3 linked regions of the Homo sapiens genome follow. The protein of the gene in region 1 interacts with the protein of each later gene in a biochemical or structural test. Each region holds a gene or a part of one and is shown on either strand. Other genes may lie near its edges.

Region 1 (7,544 bases):
GGTGTTGCTATGTTTCCTAGGCTGGCTTCCTACCTTGGCCAGCTAAAGTGCTAGATACAAGTGTGAGCCACCACACTCAGCCTGCTCCAGCATTTTAACCAGAGAAGTTACCATTTCTTCATCCTCCAAAAACTTTATTGTGTTAGGAGATTAAAGAGAAGACACTAGGCTTTTCCAAGAGATGGCTGCATTTGTATGGATGCTGATTTATTCTTAAACCTTTAGACATATTTTATAACATTCTCATTGGTGGTCATTGGAAGAGAAGCCTTCCCATTCCTAGCTCACAAGTTTTCTTCTCAAATATTTTAGCCTTGAATATTTATATAGACACACACATCTATATATATGTATATTCATATATATATATAAATGCTTCAAAATGTTAAATTAGACATCCCCCCGCCCCCCTTCCCAAGTCACTACCACTCCAGGGAAGAGCTTGGGAGGCTTGTTTCTCCTGGTGGGTGTTTGATTGATGGAGGGAAGAGCAACAGGAAGAAATCACCATAAACAGGTTTATGTAATTTGCAGACTACAATAACAGCTAGTTTCAACTTCATGTTTGATTTCATGATACCATCCTGCTTTTCATTGTAAGAATTCTGCATGTCATAAGTTTTTGTCTCAAGCAGAGCAAAACATTTGTTTTTGAAAACTGTGTGATAACTCCACGGATCACCAGGGACATCTGAAAGACTGATATTGAGATTGGCTTTATCTTTACCAGGACTTGCAAAATCAAATGCCCCCAAGGGCTAGGCAGGCTGGGTGGAGACTGTCAAACTGGGTGTTTAAGTCCCATTTCAAGGGGCAGCTTCTAATGGGCTCCAGCCTATTGTTGCCATAAGGAAGCGCGTGCCGTGGCAGATATTAATTGTTTGCTATTTTCTGGTTCCTTTCTCCTCCATGGTCCATGGGAGGACTGAGATTCCTTGCATCTTTGAAATTAAGGATGGCCATGTGACTTGCTTTGGCCAATGAAACGTAAGCTAAAGTGATGTATGTCACTTCAGGAGGAAAGATTTCACTGCTAGTGTTCGGCCCTCTCTACTTCTTTTTCTCTGCCATGGTGGCTGTAAATGCACTTGTTGATATGAAGGTATAAATACTGAGGCATCATCTATAAGACAGCTGCCCTGGAGAATCACCTCAATCCACAGTTGTCTTGTGTGAGTGGGAAGTAGCCTTTCTTTTGTTAAGCCAATGAGTTTGGGGGGATATTTGTTACTGCAGCAAAACCTAGCTTATCCTGACTATTACATATGCCCAATGTTGCCTGACTTTGATATTTTTAAAAGAGAAGTTTGAAATCTAGATTTTTTTATATGAAATCTTTGCTATATTAAAAAAATATTTTTTTCTACAATTATTTTTTTGAGATGGGGGTCTTGCTATGTTGCCTAGGCCAGACTTGAACTCCTGGGCTCAAATGATCCTTCTGCTTCAGTCTCCTGAGTAGCTGGGACTACAGGTGAGCACCACCATGCCTGTCTTTTTTAGAAAAACAAATTTAAGGTTGAAGCCAGAAAAGCCAGATTTTCAGCCTGCCAGCTACGCGTTTGCAATTTTGGTCTATACAATTTGAGTAGAGACTGGAGCAGCAATCCTGTCTGAACTCCTACAGTGCTTATAGCCTGTGTCGCATCATTAGCTCTTAGCTACTCTTTGTCTTGCTATTCATTAGTTTGTAAATCATTTTTCCTAATTAGATGGGACATAGAACAGGTGAGAAATCATGTCTTAAACTTTGTGTACCTTAAAGGTGCACAATAGGTTTTCAGTATATACTAGGATAAAGACTAATTGATTGGCTGATTACTCAGAACTATCACTTTCTCCTTTGATTTTGGAGGAGCAGGTCTGGGGAATTCATTATTTTACCTCACCATTTCAGTTTTCCCCTCTTTACAAAGAGCTCGGGATTCATCAATCTCCATTAAACTTCAAAATGAAATAGTCCACATAAGTCAGAGATGCAAAACCCACTGTATTAATTAGGACTTTTCTAATTGCAAGTAATAGGAAACCCAAATTCAAACTGCCTTGGGTAAGACATAATTTACTGATTCCTATAGCTAAAACCTGCAGAGGTCAGGATGATGTCAGGCATGACTGAATTCAGGAACTCAGGCAATGTCATTGGAACTTGATCTGTCTTTCCCTCCGTGGCTTGGCTCTACTTTTCCTCCCATTAGCTTCACTCTCAGTAGTTCCCTTTCACGTGGGGCTTCTGGCAGCTTCTCTTTCCAGCAGATCCACAAAATTCCCAGTCTTGTGAGATTTTCTTGGGATATGTGACGATCTCTCAATCAGCCCATTGACTAGGGCTGGGCGTGTTAATCAGGACTTTTCTAGTTGTGATAGGAAACTTAAATTCAAACTGCCTTAGGCTGAGTCACTTGTCTGTCCCTAAGAGCCAGTGGTAAATCAGCTCCATCCAGCATCCAATGTCTGCATAAAGGACCCAGTTTATGGCTTCTCCCTCTAGCCACTCCCAGAGGCAGTGACTACGTAGAGGGGCCTAGTAGGGAGTATGTGGCGGAAGGGAGGCCTTGAAGCTGTGTTCTTATAGCGTCCTATATGAAACTGAAAAGCATCAATAGCAAATAACAGAGAAGATCTAATGGAGATTATAGAGAGGTAGAGGGGACTAAAGGCCTCCCAAGTCACCCCTTGGTGCCACCCCTGTAACATATTTAATTTGTGGGGGAAGCAAAGGCCCAGTAGGACTGCTGGTGGCCCAGCCACAGTCCAAAACAGGCCCTAGAGAGGACGCGCTCTAACCACACACCCTAATTATTAGTCCCTGAATATAGATCAGTTTAGTTTATCCAAAGCCCCAGCTGAAGACACATCAAGTACTATTGCCTCTGTTCCATGTTTTGTTCCATATAAACATCCAGACACAGGTCTCATGGGAGAAACATCATGAGGCAGTTTCACAGTCCCTGGCTTTGATCTTTACGCTGTAGTAAAGGTGTCATTGGCCTTTCTGGGGCGAAGAGTCATGCTCTTCCACAAGAGTATCAAATTACTGCTCATTTTCCAATGTATATTCTTTCAGGGCCTTGCTTTCTTCTTACCTGCCCACACCAATGCTGTGAGGGAGACTGCTGATGGCGAAGGTGAAAATGGTCAGGCAATGTCATTGGGACTTGGTCTGTCTCTCCTTCCATTAGCCCACTTCTTTTATCCAGAAAGATTTCACTGCACTGGGGAAATAAGGAGAATAAAGTCTCATGCACTCACTCACATGAGAGAGACATGCATGTTCGGGTTTGCTCAATGGCACCCATCTGTCTCAAGTCTTGTTGTTTCTTTCACTCTGAGCATCTGCACTCCAAGAAGGCATGAACTTTTTCTTTCACTTCCTTTCTTCTATGGGTGATGACCTGACATCACTCTCAGAAGGAGGCCGAAAGTCGCTGAGTATAAAAATCGTCACTCCTATCTGGCTTAGGCAGAAGGTAGGGGGCTCGATGGGTACCCAGGAGCTCTGGAGGTAGGAGATGCCATCTAGGGAACCCCGTTCTACCTGAGGGCTCTGTGTCTCTGCCTTTGTATACTGGAGGGCACCATGGATGTCGCCTTCCCTCTGGAGTCCCCTTCACCATTTCCTCTCTAGAAGGATGGAAGGTGGGAGTGGGGTTGGCTATTGAAGCTGGAACGGGGAAGAAGGCCACTTGGGGTCTGCTGAGGGCTGGGTCTGCTCACTGCTGTGTCCGGAGTGGAAAGGAGAAGCCCGCTGGAGCAGGGTACAAGCCCAAGGGTCAAACTGCGCCAGCAGTAGAGCAAGCCGCGGTCTCAGGCTGCAGCCCTAGCAGAGGTCAGGCTGGTGCAGCCAGCCGTCTCGGGGCCTAAGGGCGCTGGCGGGGGCCGGTGGGTAGGGGTAGGAGTCCCCAAATGCCTTCATCTCAGCCCATCCTTCTCCACCGAAAAATAAAGCAGGCTGGCGAGATCGCCTCCTCACCCGCTCAGTCCTGAAGTGTCCAAGGATGAAACTGTGCGGAAATTCTCCCTGTCGCTCTCAGTTTGTGGGGGAAGCGCCGGGACTGAGGTACATGGTTAACACAGGCTGTGCGTGAAGGGGCTTTTGACTTTTCCCCCGGCTCCGGCCTCTCGCGTCTCTCTCCTAGGGCTGCGGCTGCTGCTGCCTGGCGGGCACAAGCCGGGCGGCGGTGCGCGGGGGGTGCGCTTACATAACCGCTCGCCGCGTCCTGCTTTCTCGAGCGCTCCTGCACCGTGGGGTGGCGGAGCCGGGGGACTGCATGGAACCCGGGACGCCCCCGCGGGGAGAGGAGCGCGAGCGGCCGCGGGAGGAGGGCGCCCAAGGCGGCGGGGGAGGTTAAGGTCAGTGGGTGTGAAGCGCCGGCTCCACACCCCCTCCTCCCCGGTCCCCTCCTTCCCTTCCTCTCCGTCCCCCTCTGACGTCTGGAGCTGGCAGCTCGGCCGGTTCCGCATTCCCGACCCCTCCCCGCCGCCCAGGGGCCGCTATATAGCCGGGGCTGATGCAACCCGTCCCGCCGCCCGCCACAGCCTGCGGGAGGGACGCTCGGCGGCCGCGACGGGGGGCGCTGGCGGCGGCGGACGCTGCAGCGGCGGCGGGGCTGGCGCCGCGGCGGCTCCCGGGCCGGGACAGGCCTGGGCACCGGGCGGAGCTCCGCGGCCGGGCGGCAGCGGCGCGGAGCGGGCACGGCGCCTGCAGCCGGGCCCCGGCCCCGGGGGCGCCGCCTCCCCCCGCACCTTCTGCACGGTGGGTGCGAGGGCGCGCGCTGGGGGCGCCGGGACGGGCGGGGCGGGGCAGGGCGCGGCGCGGGCACCTGGGACGGCCGCCCCCGCACGGGCGGAGCGCGAGGAGCCCCAGCCCAGCCCCGCGGGGAGGCTCCCGCAGCCCAGGGACCTCGAGCTTTCCCCGCGCCGGGCGCTGCAGCCGGGCCCCTCCCGCGAGGCGCCCGGCAGCCTGAGGCTTCCTTTTGGTTCCCGCCCCGGGACGGGAGGCTCCGTCCGCTCCCTGGACAGCCGGGGTGCTCCCTCCTTCTCCCTCCCGCGCTCTCCTCCCCCGTCCGTTTGCAGGGAGGTGCTCTCCTCGGGCGGCGGGGAAGGCGGGGTGAGTGGGGAGAAAAGTGCCCGCGGAGATGGGCTGTGCGGGTGGAGGTGGAGGGTGAAGGGCCAGGGAGGTGCGGGGTTGGGGTCGGGGTTAGATTGTGGAGGGATGACAAGGACCTCCTGGCAGTGAGGAAGCGCGACTCCCGGAGGACCCGGACCCGGAGGAGAGTATTGAGAAGGGCTCGGGATTTCCATCCAATGAAGGCAGCTTCTCTCATGGCCATTGCTTCGGAGCTCTGGGCTGGGAGGGGATCTAGGGGTGGCCGGGGTCCCCTTTGGGCTCTCCTGTCTCCCACGCCAGGTTATATAAGGAGGCAAGCAGGCTCCTGTAGGTAACCAGCCTCTCCCTTGCCCAGCCCAGCTTAGAAGGCTCTCCTCTGCTCCTCCCTTCAAAGGAGGTTGTCGAGGGGTAGGGGTGCAGTGGGGGGTGGGAGAGTGTAGGGGTGGATTGGGCCTTCCACCTGGATCCCTGGACCCTGGGATGGCAGAGCCAGGCTTTGCCTGGGTCAGTAGGAGGAGCAGGGAAGATGAGGAGGCTGGGGAAGATGGGGAGGTCCTGGCTCTTTTGCAGGGATGGAGAGGCTGGTGGAAGGAGAAATCAGCCGACCCCCTTGGGTCATCTCCAGTTGCAAGATGGCGTGGCCCTTGCCCAGGGTGCTGCCCTCCCTGTTGGAATCCAGGGCATGGGGCTATGGCCCGACCACGTGTGCTCAGGGCAAATGTGCTCAGGTCTATATCTCAGAAAGGGCTTGCAGCCTGCTTAGGCGTGTGTACCCAGGCTTAAATCTTGGTGGTCTCTCCCTAGGGTCTTAATTGGAGGAGCATCAGGAATTGGGAAGCTTTGAACCATGTTTGGGTACATTTGTACCCAAACGTCCTTTAAGCCCTTGGTAGAAACTGCATTCGCGTATCATCTCCCTTCCCCCCAACCTTCCTTCCCTGAGGGTTTTAAAAAACACTTCCCATTGCTTTTACCTTTCCAGCAAATCTGGCTGCAGCTTGGATGGATAGCTTATCTTCCTTTGCAGGTTTCTAGGGGAGAGTTTAACCAGGTATCAGGTGTGAGCATGGCTCTGATTTTGTATAAACCTGAGGATCGAGGAAGAGAAGCAAAATCTATTCTCACACCTCTGGGTGGTTAAGGTTTTGCCTTGTTTAGAGCAGGGAGGATGGATTTCTCAAAGACTCTTCTGTTCCCTTCTACTTTGGCTTTGGTTCAGAGCTGCAGGCAGCTCCAGAATCTTCCTGAAGAGCTGGGTGCTGTGTGATTTGAAGGGCTGCAGGAAGTCATGGGTGTGTAGACCTCTGGCTTTTCTCCTAGGTGGGCTGCAGGAAGTCATGGGTGTGTAGACCTCTGGCTTTTCTCCTAGGTTGGCTGCAGCCACCTCCAAGGAGATGTGTTGCAAAGTGGTGACAATGCCCCCTAGGAAGGGTTTGGATAAGGGTCTCCCCACTCATCCACTGCCTAACTTTTGCAGCTACCAGGGAATGCTCCTCCTGACTCCCTGGGTTTGTTGTCATCTCCCTACCTGTTTGTAGGATGTGTGGGCATTTTTTTCCAACCTGCAGAATCCCTGGCAGGAATAGGCTCTCTGGGCCTTGTTTGTCGTGGGGCTACTGGTGTTGCAATGGGCTGTCTCTCTCGAGTGTCTGTTTCCAGCTCCACTCTGGAAAGAAAGGGGCCAACGCCGACTCTAGGCCGGCCTGCTCTGTATTCATTCAGCTCCAGCTCAACTTGAGCAATCAGAGCCAGGGTTGAGGGCAAGCTACATTCTTTTCTGCCTTTCTGCTGCAGGATGCAGTTTGCTTTTTTTCCATGCGAATGAATTATGTTTGAAACCGAAATGGGAGGAAGAGAAAAATGGAGTGAGTGTATATGGGTATGTGTGTGTGCATACCTATATAGGCAGGGGAGGGCAGCAGGCACATTATTTTTCCATTTTCCTTTAATTAAGGCTCTGTGGAGGTGTGTTTGAAAACAGAGGGTCTCCTATGCCTTTGAGGAGGGTGAGAACACTGTTTTGGCTGCGTCCCGGGCCATATGCAGCGTATGGTGGCCAATGAAACCGGGCCTGGCTCATTCTGTTGCTTGTCTTGGCAGTCGGTTCCGTGGCTTGTATTACCAGCTCTGGAACTTAGGGGCTGCCAAGCTCCATGTGCCTGTGTATGTGTGTGTGCGTGTGCATGTGTGTGCACATGCGTTCTTGTGTGTGTGTGTGGTTTGGCCTCTCGGAACTCAGCAGAGACAAATGCCTTAGCGACCCAGTCTTGGAATTTTCAGACTGTGTTTCTTTACTTATTGCTGGCTGTGGGAGGCCTGGCCAGAGCCCACCATTCTTAGTTGTTGTTGTTTTTTAGTCTGTTTTCTTGCTGCAGCCCACGGGATTTAGTTGCAGAGCTCCATTTGCAAAGCTTCAGCTGGCCAGTGGCATTTT
Region 2 (7,026 bases), on another chromosome or scaffold:
GGAGCTTTTCTTGGTTTCTAGGAAACTGGAAACTTGCTTATTTGAATTTCTAGGATGATTTTTTTCATTTTTAGGTGAATGGAATCAGTGAAAATTCATCCTGACTCCCTTGATGTTTCTTTTTAAATAATCAGAAGAGCATGCAACATATATAAAATAAAAATACTTTCAACAGGTCACCAATAATATATAAGAAGTCCCAGGGAAATGGAAACAATTTTGAAATATGCTATCCAGCTGTGGCATTATCTTAAATTTTTATTCAAGTTACAGCTTTTTAATAAATGCTAAAATATAAAAGCTGCCCTGTGCTGATTAGACATATTTAATCAGCATATTTTCTTTGTTTTTAATGTTCTGCCAGTGATGTCCAATTTTATACTTTAATCCTTGCTTGTTTTAAATAGTAAAAAATATGTTTAGTCTGTGGTAAGGTACATAAGTTGTTTCTTCTCCAGAGTGAAGTCACCCTGCTGAGAAATGAAGTGGCACAGCTGAAACAGCTTCTTCTGGCTCATAAAGATTGCCCTGTAACCGCCATGCAGAAGAAATCTGGCTATCATAGTGAGTAATGTTCCATTACCTATAGCCTTAGGCTACGTCAGTGAAATACCGTCAGAGTGAACTGAGCTGCTACTTTAAAAATGGAGACTGTGCTTCTAATATTCAAGATTAAATATCAGAATTTCTGTAAGGTTATTATAGAATGCAGTAGAGAGGTATAATTTTTTAGAATCTAGAGAGTTTGAGTTTTCCTGTTTCTAGCTTTTTTCCTAAGCGTTACTATAGATCAACAAAATGGATTAGCTAATAATTTAAAATATACTGTAAGTACTTGATGATATTTTGTTCATCTTCTCAGGATAACACTTTGTCTTAGATTGACAGGGTGAAACACTACTTTTTTCCCAGCCTCCGTTCATTAATGATGATATTTTTCTTTTTAAAATCAGCTGACTGCCTTTAACAATATATGATATCCCTTTAAGGTATCAGATCCTATTGTTCTTTCTTAGATAATGTCAGCATTGTGTAACGTTTTTATTGTTGTAAACCTTTATATTGAGATATCTAGTTAGTTTATAAAAATGTTAAAACGGGAACAGTAGTTAAATTATCTGCTTGTAAATTTCCTGCTAAATGTTTTCCCAAAGAATGAGATTCTTTTGTTTTCAGCATTTTAAAGGTTAATTGTGCCTTTTCCTTTTTGTAATGTCCTTCTTTTTTGATAAGATGCACAGTGTTGGAACCAGCTGTTACTCTTGAATAAATGGCCAATTTTGTCCATAGTATACAAATTTGTAACAAACAACAGAGTTGGGAATGCATTAGGCAACATTTATAATATATAACCCACAGTTTTAGTCTTTATGATTTAGTGATATTTCAGGATATTAGTAAATGTGAAGATTGTTTCAACCATATGTATCCACTTCATTTTAATTTGCCAGTGTCAGTAATTCAAAAGAAAGAAACATTTTGTATTGGATGCAAACAGTTCCTCAGGTGCTCACGATAAAACTTAATGGCCACCATCTTTACTTGTAGTCATTATAAGCAGTTTCATCAGAATGGGCAATATTTTTTAATTTAAAAGATTCCGTAGATTTAGCTACTCTCAATTGCCATATATATTTAGAACGCTGATTTTTGTCAGTTTTGAGCATATAAATCTTGCTTATTTGATATCTAGTAATTTTGACAGGATGGTGAAACACATTGGAGTAAATTGGAACCATATAGAAATATGTTTGGGATTTATATTAACAATGATTGCTTCAGGGATGAGGCCATTATGGTTCCCATCTGACTTAACAACATAATTTCCTATAGAAGCTACTAGTTCAGCATTTATGCATACGTGATTTTCTTAACAAGAAATCTCTCTTGGATTTTCATAGTTTAAAAGGAAATAAATTGTTTTATAAAATTAAAAGGAAATTAACTGTTCTCTTAAATTGTATCCAATTCAGAATTACCTGTAATTTTTAAATCTTTGATAATTTATTAGATAATCCCAACAGTTTTGACTCTATTATCCAGGCAATGTATGCTCAGCAGATGCAAACCAGTTATTCATTTGACAATTGATTTACAAGATATCTTAAGTGTATAGATGCGTAGGTTTATATACTGTATACTTAAATGACTGAAAATCTAGATTAATACATTTTTAGTACATAGAGTACTAAGTTATGAGAATATAAGAAATGAATAGGATATGTTTGTTGTTTGGAAATAATCCTATCTTTATTCCTGTCTAGTCATGTAGATAATCAAATTAACTGAAATATAGTTCTACCATAAAATTAATTCTCTTCAGATCTTGGGAGATAATTGGATTTTGTAGAAATTTTCAGGTAATTTATATTTTCAAGTTTGAAATCTTTGAAATAAGTCTGACTTCTCTGTTGTGTAGTAGTAAAAATAGATACAGAAATTGACTAAGTGAATACCTTTGAAAAATTTACACTCTTCATTATGTTGTAGCACACAGCTCTTGCTAACAGTGGTGAGTTGTAATACTAGCTAAATCTTTAAAAACATTTGGGAATCAAAACTAAGATTTAGTAGAAATTAAGGAATGTTACAAAATCTTTCAAGTAAAGGTGGAAGTACTAAGTCACAGCCATAGGGTCTGTCCCGCCCAGTTTTAGCACTGAAAGTCCTACTTCCTAAGAAGACCCCTCAGTCGTGGGAAAACCATGACAGTTAGTCACCCCAACAGTTAAGTAATATAAAACCTGAATGAAAATACTAAGAGTACATTTTAAATATTTGGGTTCCATGAAAAATAAAGCACAAAAGTGATCTTATTGCCATGAATTCACATTCTTTAGATCTGGGCATAATTAAAGTTGTATTATAATTGTCTCTATAATTATAAATGGGAAGAAAAGCTTCTTGGGGACTAATCAACCACAAATACTTTTATTACTGAAAATATGTATAGGCCAGGCACTGTGGCTCATCCCTTGTAAGCCCAACACTTTGGGAGGCCAAGGCGGGAAGATTGTTTGAACCCATGAGTTCAAGACCAGTCTGGGTGAAATAGCGGGACCCCATCTCTACAAAAAATAAAGTTTAAAAAAGCCAGGCATTTTGGCACACACCTATAGTCCCAGCTACTTGGGAGGCTGAGGCAAGAGGATCACTTGAGCCCAAGAGTTCAAGGCTGCAGTGAGCTGTGATCGTGCCATAGCACTCCAGCCTGGGCGACAGGGAGACCCTATCTCAAATAAGGAAAAGAAACTTGTGGACATAGGTAGAGAACTTTCAAGATTACTGAATTGCCAAACAGCTGGTTTCTTTTAGCTTAGGTAGAGCTGGAAGTGGCTCTTTGAGTACAGCATGGTTTTCTGTATCTCTCTAGTGCTTGTGATTACACCAGTCATTTTCTCCCCTCACCTAGAACTGGACATAGGTGCAAATATATCACATTGTAAAGGTATTTGATGTGTATGTAAGGTTTATAATTACATAATTGTGAGTACCTGATTCTTTGTACTGCTTAAAGATTTGCTTTACCTAATTCTGAAAGTCTGTAGGTAAGCATTCATCCCTTATAATTTACTGTTTCATTTTAAGTTGTTGACTCCAGTATGTATTTACGTTTCCTTATACCACTCATCACAGATCAGCCTCTTTATTTTTAAAAGCTGGTGTGTCCCTTGAACTCAACATTCAGGGAAACGTCAGCCTGTTGTTCTTTTAAAGAATAGTGGTGAAGTTAGAATGGTGATCATTAAAAAGTCAGGAAACAACAGGTGCTGAAGAGGATGTGGAGAAATAGGAACACTTTTACACTGTTGGTGGGACTGTAAACTAGTTCAACCATTGTGGAAGTCAGTGTGGCGATTCCTCAGAGATCTTGAACTAGAAATACGATTTGACCCAGCCATCCCATTACTGGGTATATACCCAAAGGATTATAAATCATGCTGCTATAAAGGCACATGCAAATGTATGTTTATTGCAGCACTATTCACAATAGCAAACACTTGGAACCAACCCAAATGTCCAACAATGATAGACTGGATTAAGAAAATGTGGCACATATACATCATGGAATACTATGCAGCCATAAAAAATGATGAGTTCATGTCCTTTGTAGGGACATGGATGAAGCTGGAAACCATCATTCTCAGCAAACTATTGCAAGGACAAAAAACCAAACACTGCATGTTCTCACTCATAGGTAGGAATTGAACAATAAGAACACATGGACATAGGAAGGGGAACATCACACACCGGGGCCTGTTGTGGGGTGGGGGGAGGGGGGAGGGATAGCATTGGGAGATATACCTAATGTTGGATGACGAGTTAATGGGTGCAGCACACCAACATGGCATATGTATACGTATGTAACTAACCTGCACGTTGTGCACATGTACCCTAAAACTTAAAGTATAATTTTTAAAAAGTGATAAAAATAAAAAAATTTTAAAAATCACATATAAATACTTAAAAAAAAAAAAGAATAGTGGTGAAACAAAACAAATAGAGCTTTTTAGTATTCCCTCCAGTTAAACTGTCATTGCCAGTATTTTGTTTTCTATATACATGTAATGATTATGTAATGATTATATTGGCTATTTTAATAACTGAATTATAAATATTTTATAACATTCATTACTGCTTGATCAGAAAAGTAGGGGGGTGAAGGAGAGGGGCACTAGTTGAGAAACGACCTGTTGGGTGCTATGTTCACTATTTTGGTGATAGGTTCAATAGAAGCCCAAACCCCAGGATTGCACAATATACCCATGTAACATACCTGCATATGTACCATCTGAATCTATAATTTTTTTTAAGTATTCATTCTGTTTTATATAATTTTTAAAGGATTACTACTTCTGGTGGTTGGTGGTGGTGGTGGTGTTGTTTTATTGTACCTTGAGGTCAAGTATCTAGGGGTATGGTTTTGATTTATAGCATGTTATAGAGAAGATGGGGTTCCATCTCATTAATGTATTTTAAAACCTGCTTTTCAAAAATGCATGGATTTGAGGCAGATGTTGAAAAATTCTGTAAAAACTATATTTCAGAAAATGCACAAAATTAATAATTTTATTTTAGCTAAAGTTGACACTACCAGGTATCCCCCTCTCCATCTTCTACATTGCAAATCATAGGCTAAGTCCTGCTTCATAAGATGTCCACAATTTTTTTCACTAATTGACTTTCAGAATGGGCATCTGGCCATTAGTAAGCAGGCCAATACACATTCTTAGATTTGATTTTAGAAGCCTATTTACTGTCACTCCTAAACACTGAATAAAAAAAGTTTTAATGCCAAGTGAAAAAAGCAAGGTGCAAAAGAATACATCCAGTGTGATACTGTTTTTAAAATGTTTCAAAATAAACAAAGCTGAACTATATTGTTTAGGGATACATGCCTATGTGGTAAAACTGCAGAGAAAAAACGAGAATGGTTAAAGAAATGTCAGAGTGGTGATTACCTTTGGTGAGGACAGGAACCTCCAGGAAGCAGAAGTGTTAATGGCAATGTTCTCTCTTAAGTTGGCGGCTCGGTTCCCAGGTGTTCATGTTATCATTGTTCCTCATAACTTACATATACTATAAATATTTGTGTGTTATCTATATCAAATTTTTACTAAATGAAATTACTGGATTCTGTTCTATTAAAATAAGGATGTAAGAGACTTGTTCAGGTCTAAATATTTGCAGATTTATTTTCGTAAATATTTAGAATGCCCTTTCCTTAATATCTTTTCAGATGCAATGTTTAGAGTTTTATATGGATTTTTACTTGAATCCCAATTTATTCATGCAACTATAACAGCTGGTGGCATTTAGATTCTAAATACTGCTTGTTCTCCTATGTATGCATCATTAGAATCAGGTGTTATAATCATCCATGGCTGCAATAGATGGAAAATCAGTCAGAATAAATACAGTTCTGGAGAATGCAGAGGGAATAATTTGAAGATATAATTTGTATGTAAGAATTCATTTTGTTTATGCATGTGGTTATACATTTTTATCTTGTAATAAGAATGACATGTAGGCCAACCAGACTGAGTTTGTTAAATGTGATACTTAATGTTTGATTGTATCTGTAAGAGACTATCTTCCAAACTCTCCCTCATTTTCTTTCTTTAACACTATTTAGCAAATATTTCTTCAGCTCTATTCCATAAGGCAGTGGGCACCCAGATGTTTCCATATGCATGGTTGTGCCTTCTTTTGACCTATTGCAGGTAAAATTGCCTACTTCATGACCTATATCAATTGCTGTAATACCAACTTGTCTAATCAGTTTTGTAAGATACTTTCTAACTTTTTACTCTGTGTATTGCCTCAGCATACTGGTGCATTCTTACCGATTTTAGGAAAATGAATAATTTTTCTTTTTTCCACCCAGCTGCTGATAAAGATGATAGTTCAGAAGACATTTCAGTGCCGAGTAGTCCACATACAGAAGCTATACAGCATAGTTCGGTCAGCACATCCAATGGAGTCAGTTCAACCTCCAAGGCAGAAGCTGTAGCCACTTCAGTCCTCACCCAGATGGCGGACCAGAGTACAGAGCCTGCTCTTTCACAGATCGTTATGGCTCCTTCCTCCCAGTCACAGCCCTCAGGAAGTTGATTAAAAACCTGCAGTACAACAGTTTTAGATACTCATTAGTGACTTCAAAGGGAAATCAAGGAAAGACCAGTTTCCATTTATGCGAAATCTGTGGTTGTAAATTTTTTTTTTTTACTTGAAATTAAATTTGGCTCTAAAGTTGGTGTAGCAGCAGTTGATCAGACTGAAAAACGGTTTTTAGTCTCTGGAAAAAGACTGATTTTGCTTTTTTTATAAATATTATTAGATTTATTAATTTTTCTGTGCTCAATGTGTAAATTGTATTATAATTCATTGTGATTTATTTCACTTTTAATTTGCTGGTGTTTTAATAAATGGGGGTGTTACTGAATCTTTCTTCCCACTTCCATTTCTTTTGACCACCCCTTAACCCTCAACTGTGACGGTAGTAGTATTATCATTTATACCAAA
Region 3 (6,436 bases), on another chromosome or scaffold:
GTGTGCATCTTTGGATCTGCATGTGCATCTGACTGTGCATGGGTAGCCAGGACAGCCTTCTGTGTGTGTACAACTGTATGTGCAAATAACCAGCTCTTGTGGACATACCAGAGTGCATGTCGCCATTGTGGCTGTGTGGTGATGGCATGTGTATGTGACTGTGCAGGATGGCTGTGGGTTATTGTCCTCTTTGAGAAACTGTGTGTGTGTACATGACTAGTGCAGATATATAGTACTGATCTATATGGTACTGTCTGTGTGGCAGTACGTGTGGCTCTGTGTGACCATCTTCTCTGTATGTGGTTCTTGCGTTGCCATCTTCTGTTTTGGAAGTGTGCAAGCACCTCTCTTTGGCACTATGTATATAAAACCCTGTATCTTGTGTATGTGTGTCCCACGTTTGACCCTGGGGTATGTGTGTGTGAGGACATGTCTCTGTCTCTCTGTTTTTCATGTCACTCTCTTGACGTGTCAGTCTGTCTCATGTCCCCATCTGTCCCTTTTTTTTTTTTTTTGAAATGGAGTCTTGCTCTGTCACCCAGGCTAGAGTGCAGTGGTGCAATCTCGGCTCACTGCCAGCTCCGCCTCCTGGGTTCATGCCATTCTCCTGCCTCAGCCTCCTGCGTAGCTGGGACTACAGGCTCCCGCCACCACGTCTGGCTAATTTTTTGTATTTTTAGTAGAGACAGGGTTTCACTGTGTTAGCCAGGATGGTCTCAATCTGACCTCATGATCTGCCCGCCTCGGCCTCCCAAAGTGCTGGGATTACAGGCCTGAGCCACCATGCCCGGCCCCCATCTGTCCCTTTCTGCCATCTCCATGTCTCTAAGTCTGCATCTATTTCTTCTACCTCTGAGTCTGTATTTCTTTTCTTCCCTTCTTCATTTTCAGTCTCTGCTTTTGTGTCTCCTAGTCTCCAGGTTCTGTGTCTCCATCTCTCTGACTTGCATCTCCATGTCTTCATTTGTCCTTTTCTCCATGTCTCTGGGTCGCCATCACTTACTGCCTACCAAAAGCCCCTACCCTCATGCTTATACATCTCTTCTCTCCCTGCCTCAGTTTAACCCAGAACTGGTGCTGGTCTCAGCTGGCTTTGATGCTGCACGGGGGGATCCGCTGGGGGGCTGCCAGGTGTCACCTGAGGGTTATGCCCACCTCACCCACCTGCTGATGGGCCTTGCCAGTGGCCGCATTATCCTTATCCTAGAGGTAACTTTCTCTTGGTCCCTCTTCCCACAGTGGGAGGGTAGTTTGGAAATGTTGGCACCATCACTCAGGACAGTTTCCTGAAATCTCCTTTGAGTGTCCCTGCCTGGGATTGTTGGCACATACTGGGTAGTAATAAGAATAACAGCAACATTAACAGCCTTAATTGAGTGCTCACTATGTGCAGAGCACTCTTCTGAGCACCTCATGTGTCTTATTCATTCAGTTACTTGGCAAAGCAGCCTTATGAGGTAGGGTAAGCTTACCTCATTTTCCTCTCTGAAGATCAGGGAAACTGAGGCACAAAGAGGTGTGATGACTAGCCTGAGATGGCACATTTACTGATGGCAGAACCAGGACTTGAACCCATGCAGCCTGGCTCCAGGGTTTGTGCTTTTTACTCTACCTGAACTGCCTCTAACAAGTTCCTGGGACAAAGGAAATTCACTGACCTTTGTAAATGACTCAGTATCCCCACGCCCTGTGCCTCAGTTTCCTCATCTTTATGAGGCAGGCTAATCATGGAGGAATGCCTGGCATATGGTAAATGCTGGATCTTTTGGATCTGGTTTTTTGTTGTTGTTGTTGTTGTTGTTGTTTGTGAGACAAGAGTCTCGCTCTGTCACCCAGGCTAGTCTGCAGTGGCATGATCTCAGCTCACTGCAGCCTCCACCTCCCGGCTTCAAGTGATCCTCCCACCTCAGCCTCCTGAGTCGCTGGGATTACAGGCACCCGCCACCACGCCCAGCTAATTTTTGTATTTTTAGTAGAGATGGGGTTTCACCATGTTGGTCAGGCTGGTCTTGAGCTCCTGGCCTCAAGAAATCCACCCACCTTAGCCTCCCAGAGTGCTGGAATTACAGGCATGAGCCACCGCACCTGGCCCCTGGTTACTGTTATGCGTTGTTCAGATATTAACCCACTCAGCAACCTTCTGTGCTCTTATTTTCTTTTTCTTTTTCTTTTTTTTTTTGAGACGTTGTCTTGCTCTGTCGCCCAGGCTAGAGTGCAGTGGTGCGATTGTGGCTCACTGGGTTCAAGCAGTTCTCTGCCTCAGCCTCCTGAGTAGCTAGGATTACAGGTGCCTGCCACCACACCCAGCTAATTTTTTTGTATTTTTAGTAGAGACGGGGTTTCACCATGTTGGCCAGGCTGGTGTTGAACTCCTGACCTCGTGATCCACCTGCCTCAGCCTCCCAAAGTGTTGGGATTACAGGCATGAGCTACCATACCTGCCTCTTTTTTTTTTTTTTTTTTTTTTTCCTTTTGAGACAGAGTCTCGCCGTGTCACCCAGGCTGGAGTGCAATGGCGCTATCTCGGCTCACTGCAGCCTCTATCTCCCAGGCTCGAGCAAGCAATTCTCATGCCTCAGCCTCCCGAGTAGCTGGGACTACAGGCGCATGCCACCACGCCTGGCTAATTTTTGTATTTTTAGTAGAGACGGGGGTTTCACCATGTTGGCCAGGCTGGCCTCAAACTCCTGACCTCAGGTAACCTTCCCGCCTCGGCCTCCCAAAGTGCTGGGATTATAGGGGTGAGCCACCGCGCCCAGCCTGTGCTGTTATTTTCACCACTTTACAGATGAGGAAAATAAGTCACTGAGAAATTAATTGGCTTGCAAAAAGTCGCACTTACTATGTGCCCAGTACTGCTTGTGACAGGACACGGTGGGAGTTAAGAACACAGATGACTCCATCAGAGAGCCCAAGTTCAAACCCCAGTGCTGCCTCTTCAGCTGTTATGACCTCGGACAAGTCATCTAACCACTCTGAGCCTCAGTTTCTTTATCTGTAAAAAGAATAGCAACTGGGATTCCTGTAGAGTGTAAAAAAAGTCAATACAGGAGTCCATGTGGAGAAAGAGTCCAGTTGTTCCTGTACTAGGTCAGGGCAGGGGCTTTTGTATGGGTTCACAGCAGTCGTCTTGTGCAGGTCAGGTCAGTGGTTACTGTATGATGTGAGGCCAGGGGTTCCTGGACAGTGTGAAGACGGATTTCTGTATGGCATGAAGGCAAGTTCCTGTATAGATTGAGCGCCTGTGGTTGTGAGGATTGAGTTAATATGCATGAAGTACTTAAAATCGGGTCTGGCACACAGCAAACAATAAATGTCAGCTGTTACTAATGCTTTTATCAGTATTGTTATCTTGCACTTTACATCACAATTTACTCCCCACAACAACCACCTTACACAGTGGGTGCTGCCTATCTTAAAGGTGTGGGTTCTGTTCACTTGTTCTCAGTACTCCCCCTCCCTCTCCAGACTTGCAGGGCTCAGTAGGGAGGATTGGGGAGGCAGGACATGTTGTCCTCCAAATTCCCCAATGAACCCCCACCATACCTTTCCCTCCCCTTTTCCTTAACAAAGGGTGGCTATAACCTGACATCCATCTCAGAGTCCATGGCTGCCTGCACTCGCTCCCTCCTTGGAGACCCACCACCCCTGCTGACCCTGCCACGGCCCCCACTATCAGGGGCCCTGGCCTCAATCACTGAGACCATCCAAGTCCATCGCAGATACTGGCGCAGCTTACGGGTCATGAGTGAGTGGATTTGGGGGTGATGGGGGGAACCCAGGGAAGGAGGGGGCTGAGGGGCAGAGATCAGAGGCAGGAAGGGTGACAGTACCCACACTCAAGGATCTCCCTCCCTGGTTCCAGAGGTAGAAGACAGAGAAGGACCCTCCAGTTCTAAGTTGGTCACCAAGAAGGCACCCCAACCAGCCAAACCTAGGTTAGCTGAGCGGATGACCACACGAGAAAAGAAGGTTCTGGAAGCAGGCATGGGGAAAGTCACCTCGGCATCATTTGGGGAAGAGTCCACTCCAGGCCAGACTAACTCAGAGACAGCTGTGGTGGCCCTCACTCAGGACCAGCCCTCAGAGGCAGCCACAGGGGGAGCCACTCTGGCCCAGACCATTTCTGAGGCAGCCATTGGGGGAGCCATGCTGGGCCAGACCACCTCAGAGGAGGCTGTCGGGGGAGCCACTCCGGACCAGACCACCTCAGAGGAGACTGTGGGAGGAGCCATTCTGGACCAGACCACCTCAGAGGATGCTGTTGGGGGAGCCACGCTGGGCCAGACTACCTCAGAGGAGGCTGTAGGAGGAGCTACACTGGCCCAGACCACCTCGGAGGCAGCCATGGAGGGAGCCACACTGGACCAGACTACGTCAGAGGAGGCTCCAGGGGGCACCGAGCTGATCCAAACTCCTCTAGCCTCGAGCACAGACCACCAGACCCCCCCAACCTCACCTGTGCAGGGAACTACACCCCAGATATCTCCCAGTACACTGATTGGGAGTCTCAGGACCTTGGAGCTAGGCAGCGAATCTCAGGTAAGGCTCACCACACCCAGGTAGGGGCAAGAAGGGGCAAGAATCGGGCTTCTCTGATACATCTCTTACTTCTGCGTGTCCAGGGGGCCTCAGAATCTCAGGCCCCAGGAGAGGAGAACCTACTAGGAGAGGCAGCTGGAGGTCAGGACATGGCTGATTCGATGCTGATGCAGGGATCTAGGGGCCTCACTGATCAGGTGAGCTCAGGGAGAGGCTGGGACTGTGGCTTCCTTCTCTTGCCAATTTGTGTCTCCAGGTAGGAGCATGTGATGAATAAACATATAATGGGGAGATGGGGTCTTCAGCTTACCTAGTTTCACCCACCCACTCCAGGCCATATTTTATGCTGTGACACCACTGCCCTGGTGTCCCCATTTGGTGGCAGTATGCCCCATACCTGCAGCAGGCCTAGACGTGACCCAACCTTGTGGGGACTGTGGAACAATCCAAGAGAATTGGGTGTGTCTCTCTTGCTATCAGGTATGGAGCAGAGGAAGGGGATGGGGCGGAGGTTGGCCCGGGAGCAAACTGCAGGGGGATGCTGACCCCCACCTGACACTCACACCCCCAACCTCAGGTCTACTGTGGTCGTTACATCAATGGCCACATGCTCCAACACCATGGAAATTCTGGACACCCGCTGGTCCTCAGCTACATCGACCTGTCAGCCTGGTGTTACTACTGTCAGGCCTATGTCCACCACCAGGTGGGCCCTGGGTAGACCCTTCGACACGTGCACACTCACCCCCCACACACACACCCCTTCTGTGATTGGGTAAAGGGAGACCACAGGCCCCTCTGCATGGCTGCCTCATGTGATTATTTTGCATGGGGCGGGGGCTGTGGGATAGTCCAGAAGACAGAGTGGTTGAGGGCTGGAGTGGGGGCAGCCCTGCAGCCGAGGTAGAGGGGTCCTCACTCTCTCTCACCTGCCCTATTCTTGCCTCCTCCTCAGGCTCTCCTAGATGTGAAGAACATCGCCCACCAGAACAAGTTTGGGGAGGATATGCCCCACCCACACTAAGCCCCAGAATACGGTCCCTCTTCACCTTCTGAGGCCCACGATAGACCAGCTGTAGCTCATTCCAGCCTGTACCTTGGATGAGGGGTAGCCTCCCACTGCATCCCATCCTGAATATCCTTTGCAACTCCCCAAGAGTGCTTATTTAAGTGTTAATACTTTTAAGAGAACTGCGACGATTAATTGTGGATCTCCCCCTGCCCATTGCCTGCTTGAGGGGCACCACTACTCCAGCCCAGAAGGAAAGGGGGGCAGCTCAGTGGCCCCAAGAGGGAGCTGATATCATGAGGATAACATTGGCGGGAGGGGAGTTAACTGGCAGGCATGGCAAGGTTGCATATGTAATAAAGTACAAGCTGTTAAAAAACCTGGAGAAAGCTTTTTGACTTTGAGCAGGTGGAGAACCCCACATCCCTGGCCAGCAGAGCCGATGAGTAATGAAGGAATGAGGGAGTGGGTCTCTGTCAGGTCAATCCCCTGCCCATCCATTGCCCCCAAAAAACTAACTGAAAATAGAGCAGCCATCTTGACTGGCTCCACGGGATATAAAATGGTAGAATCCATGAGAAAATGGGTGCTTGCCTTATAAATAGGAGCCTCACAGCCAGTCCCAGCCACACCCACACCCTAGGCTGAGAAGGCAAGAAAACTAGCAGGAAGTATCCTTACCAGGCCTGTTTCCCCACTGTCTCATTGGCCTGACTGGGGATGGTGGGAGGTCCAGGTTTAACTTGAATGTGGTGGTCATGGTAGCTTCTTGGCAGAAGGGGTGCCTGCCATTGACCACAGGTGGGAAATTGGAGGACAGTCTGAGAGCTGAATTTCTCCCACGTGGTGAGAATTGCTTTGGCAGCTCAAGGGAGTTGGATCTGA

What was found. Proteins that work in one complex are often made in the same cells at the same time.
Region 2: the proteins of JDP2 (region 1) and ATF2 form a complex in vitro, tested with the Homo sapiens proteins (one study listed by BioGRID).
Region 3: the proteins of JDP2 (region 1) and HDAC6 form a complex in vitro, tested with the Homo sapiens proteins (one study listed by BioGRID).

Annotation. Positions count from the first base shown.
Region 1 is NC_000014.9:75,423,497-75,431,040, forward strand, and holds the start of JDP2 (jun dimerization protein 2), read left to right. Parts: upstream 1-4,525; 5' UTR 4,526-4,756; intron 4,757-4,860; exon of another isoform or gene 4,861-5,110; intron 5,111-5,593; exon of another isoform or gene 5,594-7,544. UniProt on the Homo sapiens protein: Component of the AP-1 transcription factor that represses transactivation mediated by the Jun family of proteins.
Region 2 is NC_000002.12:175,074,198-175,081,223, reverse strand, and holds part of ATF2 (cyclic AMP-dependent transcription factor ATF-2), read left to right. Parts: intron 1-458; coding exon 459-564; intron 565-6,136; exon of another isoform or gene 6,137-6,224; intron 6,225-6,356; coding exon of another isoform or gene 6,357-6,364; exon of another isoform or gene 6,365-6,388; coding exon 6,389-6,615; 3' UTR 6,616-7,026. UniProt on the Homo sapiens protein: Transcriptional activator which regulates the transcription of various genes, including those involved in anti-apoptosis, cell growth, and DNA damage response.
Region 3 is NC_000023.11:48,819,047-48,825,482, forward strand, and holds the end of HDAC6 (protein deacetylase HDAC6), read left to right. Parts: intron 1-1,059; coding exon 1,060-1,209; intron 1,210-3,138; exon of another isoform or gene 3,139-3,217; intron 3,218-3,573; coding exon 3,574-3,748; intron 3,749-3,865; coding exon 3,866-4,542; intron 4,543-4,625; coding exon 4,626-4,739; intron 4,740-4,875; coding exon 4,876-5,022; intron 5,023-5,119; coding exon 5,120-5,248; intron 5,249-5,497; coding exon 5,498-5,566; 3' UTR 5,567-5,930; downstream 5,931-6,436.